Linked DNA regions of Homo sapiens. The protein of the gene in region 2 purifies or fractionates together with the protein of the main gene of each other region. This does not show direct contact. Each region holds a gene or a part of one and is shown on either strand. Other genes may lie near its edges.

Region 1 (4,556 bases), on a different chromosome or scaffold from region 2:
ATTAGAGTATCAACTGTTAGTCAACTGGGAAAACAGCACGGATGAGTACAGGTACCTGTATCTATAATTCTTTTAGTTTATAGTTTATAATTCATTTAAGTATACTTTTTAGTTTAGAATTCTTTTAAGTATATAAAAGATCAAATTTCTATTCAATTACAGTAGGTCAGAAGTGACAGCTTAGATAAAAAGTTAGCATGGCAGTACCTGAGTCATATTCCTAGTTATTTATTATCTTCAAGGCTCAGTACAAACAAGGAAAAGCCATTATTTTTCTTGCAGGCAAAAGAGGCAGTTAAAAGTTTGTTTATTTAACTTAGGTTGGGAGTTGCTCTTGCCTTAAAAAAAAAAAAAAAAAAAGGGAAAACTCCATGAAAGTAAAGATTAACTGATAATGCTTCTTTATCTTTGATGCACCTATCCCTTTTGGTTTTACTGTTTTCCTCTCCTCCCCAAGATTTTCCTATTTGTGTAAAATTGTACTAAGAGCACCTGGGAAGGCTGGGCATGGTGGCTCACGCCTGTAATCCCAGCACTTCGGGAGGCCGAGGTGGGCGGACCACCTGAACCCAGCAGTTCGAGACCAGCGTGGCCAACATAGTGAAACCCTGTCTCTACTAAAAATACAAAAATTAGCTGGGTGTGGTGGCGCGCACCTGTAATCCCACCTACTCAGGAAGATGAGGCAGGAGAATCACTTGAACCCAGGAGGCAGAGGCTGCAGTGAGCCGAGATCCTGCCACTGCACTCCAGCCTGGGCAACAGAGTGAGACTCCATCTCAAAAACAAACAAACAAAAAAGAAAACCTGGAGGATAAAAATTGTACCCAATACCTAGGACACTTTCTGCACAGAATAATATATAACCACTTAAGTAATAGCCATATGATAATTATGTCATTAAAATTTAAATTCTTGCATAGCTCTACACAAAAAATTACCATTTATATCTTCCAATAGGATCCCAAAATCCAGGCCTTGAAAGTTTACAGGGTCCTTCAGTTGCCTGCTTATAGAAGCTATAAAATTTAAGCATCATTTCATTTGTTGGCTGGAATGAACCTGTTGGAAACACACATTAAATACAAATCACCTGGGGAATACAACTGATAATCAGGTTATAAATTAGCTTAGCTATACTAATAGTGATTTTATATTGCATTAATACTTTAGATAATGATTTATTTCTAGCTTATAGAAACAAAAGTTATGGTTCTGTTAGTTGCTTGCTTCTTTGATTTCAAAACACTCTGAGATTTTAAACTTTAATAGCAATGCCTAAGATGGTTCAATAAATAAAAGAATACATGAATAGACATGCTGTAGATATAACCAAAATAACCTGCAAATGTCTCTTTAAAAACATACTAAAATATAGAATAACTATTATTAAGCAATCGTAATAAGGTACTTTTATTCAAAGCTTATGACAAATCAAAACTGACTAGTGTAAGTGAAAAAGTTATATGTATACTCTGCCAAATTTCAAATTCTCAGTAGATAAGGAATTTGGGGCTAAAGCCAAAGAGTATACACTATGGTAGAAAAAGAATTAATCTAAGATAAAATAGATTTCTCACTTCCTACCTCTGTAATTTTGGAGACATCAATTTGAGGATAATTCTTCATATATGTTTCTAGCATATCTATAGTTTTTCTCATGTTTAAAATTTTTAAATTGGCCAGTTGTGGTGGCTCATGTCTGTAATCCCAGCACTTTGTGAGGCTGAGGTGGGTGGATCACCTGACCCCAGGAGTTCAAGGCCAGCCTGGGCAACATAGCAAAACCCTGTCTCTACAAATAAAAACAAAAATTAGCTGGGTGTGATGGCACACCCTGTAGTCCCAGCTACTCAGGAGCCTAAGCAGAGAGGATCTCCTGAGCCTGGGGAGGTCAAGGATGCAGTGAGCTGTGATCACACCACTGCACTACAGCCTCGGTGACAGAGAAAGACCCTGTCTCAAAAAAAAAAAAAAAAAAATCAAATTGTATAAGCAAGTGCTATAAGTTGCAGTATTCTCAATAACTGAAAAATTGGAATGTTAATGTTTTATAATAGCTGTTTAAATAATTATGATATATAAATATAACAGGACAATTTATAACTGTAGCCCTAAAAAGTTATATTGTAGAAAAATATAAATAATGGTATAAGTTCCATGATCTACTATAAATTTAGAAAAATAAGTTTAAAAACAACATATGTAATATGATACCTTTTGGCAAAATATTTATATACATAAAAAGTACAGTAGAAAGATAAACATAAAATGTTTAAAGACTATCTCTGAATAGTAAGTATACAAATTATTTTCCTTTTCACTTATGTGTTTTTAAAAAAGTTTTAAACATCAGTGTATATTACCTTTATAACAAAATTTTAAAAATAACAATTGTAACAAGATATTTTTTAAAATTTGTAAATTGCATAAGCTAGCAGTTTATAAGAGCTGTGGGCCGGGCACAGTGGCTCACACCTGTAATCCTAGCACTTTGGGAGGCCGAGGCAGGCGGATCACCGGAGGTCAGGAGTTTAAGACCAGCCTGGCCAACATGATGAAACCCCGTCTCTACTAAAATACAAAAATTAGCCGGGCATGACGGTGGGTGCATGTAATCCCAGCTACTCAGGAGGCTGAGACAGAATTGCTTGAACCTGGAAGACGGTGGTTGCAGTGAGCCAAGATCACACCACTGCACTACAGCCTGGGCAGCTGAGCAAGACTTGGTCTCAAAAAAAAAAAAAAAAAAAAAGCTGTGCTGTGGAAATTACCACAGAGATAAACTGAGAACTAGTGTTTCAGGTTTGGCCGAGAGTGCATAATTAATTCTCAAATCACTATAATAATTATCTGTATAATATATGCACATTTAGGAGTACCTAATAGATAGTGTTCTAATGATACAATCCTTTATAAAGCAGAGGGAAAAAAATGGAGAAACCACAGTTTAAAATGGTCACTTATTTAAATAACACAAATCTAAATTTAAAACATCAAAAGTCTAATCTCAAAATATCTTCAGTAAGTCAACCAAATATGTTTATTGGCTTAGGTGAATGATATTAAAAATACAAAAACCGAGAACATTTATTGAGTGTAGTCTGTGTGTAAGACACTCAAGTAAGATTTCTGTCCTCAAGGTGCTCACACATGATGTACTTCATATGTATTTGAAATATTAGCTAAGAATTTTAATTTTAAAAGGTTAAGGTCATACCAAACATAGATGTCATAGGATTCATTACTATTTCAGGCCTTAAATAAGGATTGAGAAACAAGGAACAAAAAACTCCAAGATCTTGCTCTTTGCATAATGATTCAGAGCAAATCAAATGGTTTAAAAGTAGTATTACAAAAATATTTATAATCCATTATAACAAACTTCTGCTTCAATTAATATCAACTTAGTTTCAGGGGATAACAGTATACTGGATGTTGTCCAACACAAGTACCATTTGATAGGATATCTTTTTTTTTTTTTTTTGAGTTGGAGTCTGGCTCTTGTCACCCAGGCTGGAGTACAATGGCGCAATCTCAGCTGACTGCAACCTCCGCCTCCCGAGTTCAAGCGATTTTCCTGCCTCAACCTCCCGAGTAGCTGGGATTACAGGAACTCGCCACTACACTCAGCTAATTTTTGTATTTTTAGTAGAAGTGGGGTTTCACCATGTTGGCCAGGCTGGTCTGGAATTCCTGATCTCAGGGCCTGCCTCGATCTCCCAAAGTGCTGGGATTACAGGTGTGAGCCACCACGCCTGGCCTGATAGGGTATCTTTTTTTTTAAATTTAATTTAATTTAATTTTATTTTATTTTTTCGGAGACGGAGTCTGGCTCTGTCACCCAGGCTGGGGTGTGATCTAGGCTCACTGCAAGCTCCGCCTCCCGGGTTCACGCCATTCTCCTGCCTCAGCCTCCCGAGTAGGTGGGACTACAGGCGCCCACGACCACGCCTGGCTAATTTTTTGTATTTTTAGTAGAGACGGGGTTTCACCGTATTAGCCAGGATGGTCTCAATCTCCTGACCTTGTGATCCGCCAGCCCCGTGATCAGCCCGCCTCAGCATCAGCCTGCCTCGGCCTCCCACAGTGCTGGGATTACAGGCGTGAGCCACCGCACCCGGCCGATAGGGTATGTTAACTTTGCAATACTTTCTTAAATGTTATGTACATACAAACTGTACTTTATACAGGTTTCCTAATAAGTGGTACATAATGTCAACAGGCATAGTGGCCTAGAGACATCAGTCTAGCTTTACCAATTTTCAAAAAACTATAAAAACGTGTGCTTTAGAAGAAAGTATAAACATACTACTTACATAAAACTCTTAGAATCATACCTTTCTATAAACACTAATAATTAGGGACTTAAAAAATCAATACCTAAATAAGTTCATGCTTTTTTTTATATTTTATTTGTTCTTTCTTATCTTTCAGTCCCCCATATGCCCTCCTCCAATAGAATGTTTGAAATTACAAAAGGTTCAGACAACACCATAGAAGGAAAGAAATTACAAATGGAACACTATTTTGTGTATATTTGTTTTTAAAAATTT
Region 2 (5,044 bases):
TGCTACCTGGGGATGCCCATCCCCTGGCCGTGGGTCTAGTCCACTGCAGTGGGAAGAAGGCTCGGCCCGGCCTGGTCTCTCTTGAGCCAGGTACTGGAGGGTGTCCCAAGACCCAGTTGGCAGCTAACTGTGGCTCAAGGAGGTGGGCATTGGCAGAACAGACCCGCCCTGGGCTGCAGGTGGAGGGGTGGGCCTGCTGGAGACTGAGGTACTTGTAGGATGGTGGGGAAGAGCAAGACAGGGGCAGAGGAGGCTCAGGATGGGAGCAAATGCCCCTTCGGACCCCAAAAGCAGAAGGCTGGTCTGGAGAGAGGGAGCATGCAGCTGCCCTTGCTCCATCATCTGGTGCCTGGTCAGGCCCTCTCTCCTACCTCCAGGAGGAAAAAAACAGAGAGAGGAAACTGCGAGCAAATGGGCTTCTGGGTCCCGTCAGGGCTGCACAAGCCCTCTGTCATGCTGCCAGCTTGCACCAGTGCCCCCGCGTGGCCCCCAGACATCCCCGCCCGGCCCGGGCTAGGAGCTGGTGATAAACCCAGGGAGGGGCCCTCCCCAACGAAAGTGGATGAGCTTGGGGTATCCCAGCTCAGCCTCTGCCTCAAGTCACAGAATGCGAACAGTGTATGTGAACTAAACCTGCCTGTTACGGCGGGAGTGGGGTAGGGGCCACGGGGCCTCTGTGAGGGAGGGGGAACAGCGTTGTCCTGAGTACAGCCAGCAGCAGCTGCTGCGCGGAGCGGGCTGGGCCAAAGCCCTGCTTCTGGACTGGAGTAGCCATTGAATTTATGAGTGTGCAGATATGTCTCTCCCACCGTTTCCTGCTAGCTGATGCCCCCTGCCCTGGCCAGAAAGCCTGTGGATGGTGGGCAGCGCTGCCTGGCGATGCTCATGCTGCCCACATCCTCTCCTCCTGACAGTGGTTGAGCAAGTGAGGGAGGCCAGGACGGCTGCACTTCAGGGGCTTGGCCTCTAGGGGCAGCAGAAGCATCTAACAGGGCAGGGGCGGTATCTTTCCTGGACCAGCTCTTGATCCAGTTTGGACCTTTCCTATTGCCACTGACGCTGCTCAGTCCTGGTGCGGGAGGGTTTTGAAGGAGTTTGTGCAGTGGTCCCTCCACCAGGAGTCAGAGACCACGTCCTACTGCCAAGCAGCAGTGACCGCCTAAGCGTGGGCTGTGGGGGTGGGGAGAGGTAGGGGGCACCTCAGCTGGAGCTCAGGGGGTATCTCCTTCCAACCTCAGACCAAGCCTGTGGAAAAGGAGAGAAAGTGCATGGAGCGAGCCGGGACCCAGCCACTCTCCTCTCCAACACTCCGGGTAGGAGGCCCCCTTGCCAGCCAACCCTGCCTGCTGGCCTTCCCCGGCTCCCTCTCCGAAGGCCGTGCTCCCTTCCCCTTTGCACAGCACAGCGCCAGGCTTCCCACTGCTCTCCCAGCTCTATAGACTCTATTTTTATATCTATTTAAAACATAGAAATGTATAAATATATAGGATATTATTTATAGATATATAGACGTGATTTACTCTCTTACTCTGTGTGTATACGTACTGTATATGTCCATATATACAACATATATGCTGTAGCATCTGTATTCTACACTGCACATACCCCTGCTTCCATGCACTCTCTCCTAGGGAGACTGGATTGCATAGGTATTTCCAGGGTGATACCACTTGAGGGGGTGGGGGGGAAGGGAGTGCCAGATGGAAGTGGAGGGGCGTACCATTTTCCTCCCAAAAGGGCACTTTTTCTCCCTCTGGCTAACATGCAAACATTGCCTGAAAGGCTCCTTAAAAATATCACAGCACCATCCACTCAGCTCAAGCACCCTAACCAACAGATGGCAAGAGAAGGGCCCCCACCAAGTGGGAGATGGGTTTCCCTCCAAGCAGGAGAAGGGCCGTGCCAGTCTCTTGGGTCCTCCTGAGGACTGAGGAAGAGGCCAGACTAGAACCCATGACACGGCACCACCTCCCCAGAAGACTGGTGTCTGGAATGGGCACACCACTGCCCTCTGAAAACCCCTTTCTTGTCTGAGGAGGACTGGCCTGCCTGTTTCAGCTGTTTCAGCCTGGCCTGGCTAGATCTGCCTCTTGAAGCAGGGAGGGGGCACAAGTCCAATGCCTTCTGCCAAAATTGGACCTATGGGCCAAGAAAAAGCATGAATTCGACTTGGAAATCAACCCAGACTGAAAGCCAAAAGCAGACCTAGGTCTAGAACTCCCATTCCTAGAGGGGGTAGAAGGAAAATGAAAGGGGGGATCCAGAAGAGGGAAGTTATACTTCAACCCCTCAGGCCACCTCCTGGGTCCCATCAGGCTCCAGGTGATCAAGTAACATGGCACCAGCCCCTCAGTGCCGGCTGGGCCAGGGCTGTGGGCCCACAGTAGGGTCTCAGCTATTGTTTCCAGCCTTCTGCATGCTTTCCCCCCTGTTGGCACCACCTCCAAATGAATGGAAAACATTTAAACATTACCTTAAGTAATTACAAGGTACTTTTCCTAAATTAAAGGGTTGGCATAAGCAACTCAAGGGGAGGACCACCTCAGCAAAACAACTCAACTTGGAAACATGTGGCAGAGGCTGAGGTCAGAGACCCCCAAGTGCCATAGATTCCAGGGCCCAGCACTGAACCTTGCCATCCAGGGACCCTGGAACTTGAGCCTGCTCTCAGTCCCAAGTGAGGATGGGGAAATGAGGATGTGCCTAGCATCACAAGGTGTCATAGGCCAGTCATTAGAAAAATTAAATTAAATAAGGCTGCTGTTTCTGATGCCTGGACTCTCATATTCAACCAGGCAGGCAAAACTTGGGGATTCTGACATGGCAAGAGTTACAGACTTGACTGCGCTGTCCTCATGTTTCACAGATACTAGATGGCAGTGGATTTTTTCTTTGTCCTCCATGAAGGAAAAGCAGATCATATTAATCATAAGGGCTCTGGCTCCCAGGCTCTGCCAGGTATCACCTTGGCACAGTTGGCCACAAACCTGGGCCTCAAGGTTGATCTCACTTCCCACCAACCCTACGAGCCAAAGAAAGTCACTAATCAGCCAGCCCAGTTATGCCAAGTCTCAGCCCCAGAGACACACTTCATTCTAAGCCTGTAGTCATCACTCCTAAGCCAGAGGCTGAGTTAAAGGGCTCTGTCTTGTCTGAAGTAACAACATTTGGGATCCACCAACTGCTTTTCCACAGTTCTGTATACACATCAAGGGGAGATTAGGTTAGCCAAGCATATGCTCCCTGGGCTAGACCCTGAGTGTCCCATCAGTCCAAGTCCTTCTCAAGCAAGCAGAAGAGTGGGAAATGCCTATGACAGAAATCATGGGTAATCACATGCAGAATTCACAGGACAGAAGCACTGGGCCTCCCAGGGAGCATCCAAGCTGAGAAGAGACCCCGTGTAAATTGCAGTGGTGTATCACCCAAATTATTCCCTGTCCCATGGCAGTGTGGCCTACAGAGTGTCTGCCACAGCCCTGGCATGGCTAAATTCAGCAGAAGCCACAAGCACCCAGAGTTTTAGGGATGCCCTAACCTAACTTCAAGACCACCTGAGAGGTTAGCTTTTCCGAGGTCTGGTGGCCAGCTCAGGAAGTGACCCCTGCAGCTGCATGCTGTGCATAGCAGCTCATTCTGCTAGGCCAGAAGTGGGTCACCTGCTCTCAGCTTTCTCAGGAACTACAGGGTAGGCACTGGCACTGGCCCATAAGCTTTTCCCCTTCTAGCTGAAGATTTTAGCTCATTTTGGCCATGATCTCTTGAGAGGAAAAAGAGTAGCTCCAACTGACCAGGTGCTCAGGAAGACACTGGTTCTCTCTTCCTGGTTTTCAAATGAGCGGGAGCCTTAGCCTGCTCCTCCCTACCCATTACCCAATGTAAGGTGTAAGGCAACTGTTGGCTAGAAGAAAGGATCTCAACCTACTGTTTCTGCCCTCACCAAGCCCTGTCTTGCTAGCCATCTCTGCCCTCAACCCTTCTTAGTCTCTGCAATGTTCAGTGAAAACTCCCCAGACACAGCAGTTTGCGTGTGTGAGGGGAGAGGAAGTCCCAAGGCTGGGGCTGGGCCAGGTGGGACCTGGTGCTTTGCAACAGCATCCCATTTGACCACAGTTAGGTTTTGACCCTGATGGGAGGAGCAGATGGAGGGAGACATCAGTTTAAAGTGGGGAAGTGGAATGGGGCTGGGAATCTCAAAGCCTCAGAAGGAGGCTTTCAGCCTTTCCTTGCTAGTTCCTGCTAACTGTCTTCTTGCTCAGAGGAGGGTAGGGAAGCATGTGTGCAACTGGGGTGGGAGGTGGGGTGGATGTCACCAGGCAGGGGTGCATTGATTTGTTGAAGAAGGCAGCATATGAGGCCTGGCAGTGGGACAGTTGGAGGAACCCATTTTTTTTTGTTTTTTGTTTTTTAACATGCTACATCACTGTTGAAAACAAACAAAAATATTTCAAAAATAATATATAATATATATAATATATTTATATAATGAAAAGCTATTGACTAGCAGCAATGATTCTAAAGTTATCTTAGCACCAAGACCATGGAGGTGAAGGGGAAGGGATTGGTAGGGGATGAAGGGACTGGTGGAACCAAGAAAGGGCTATAACATGTTCAGTGTTGATGACATTTCCACTATGGTTCTCAACGGTGGCATGAGGCCTCAGAGACAACATAAACCAAGAAGGAAGGAAGCCACCACAGTTTTATAATGTCTGAACCAAGCAGGCTGAAGACATTGGGGCCTTGCCTGTGGCCAGATAACACCACCCTCTGCCAACCAAGAGATGAAGCTCTCAGCAGAACTGACCACATGTATATAATTCAGATCTTCCTCCCTCCCCCAAAATGACCTGCATCCACGTGATAGGATCTCTGCATATAAAATATGCATAAATCAGATGTAGGAACATGAACAGAAGTTTTTAACAGCTCACGCACATTTTTTAAAACTCCCTTGCGAGGTATACCGGTAGTTAAATGAATGAAAGAGCATTGATCAGACTCCTCTAGTTTAAACCACTACTTGCCCCAGGGAATAGGCAAG

What was found.
Region 1: the proteins of PRDM11 (region 2) and ACBD5 purify together in Homo sapiens (affinity purification with mass spectrometry; one large-scale study listed by BioGRID and IntAct). This does not show direct contact.

What each region holds. Positions count from the first base shown.
Region 1 is NC_000010.11:27,234,151-27,238,706, forward strand, and holds part of ACBD5 (acyl-CoA-binding domain-containing protein 5), read right to left. Parts: intron 1,063-4,556; coding exon 942-1,062; intron 1-941. UniProt on the Homo sapiens protein: Acyl-CoA binding protein which acts as the peroxisome receptor for pexophagy but is dispensable for aggrephagy and nonselective autophagy. Binds medium- and long-chain acyl-CoA esters.
Region 2 is NC_000011.10:45,229,556-45,234,599, reverse strand, and holds part of PRDM11 (PR domain-containing protein 11), read right to left. Parts: 3' UTR 1-5,044.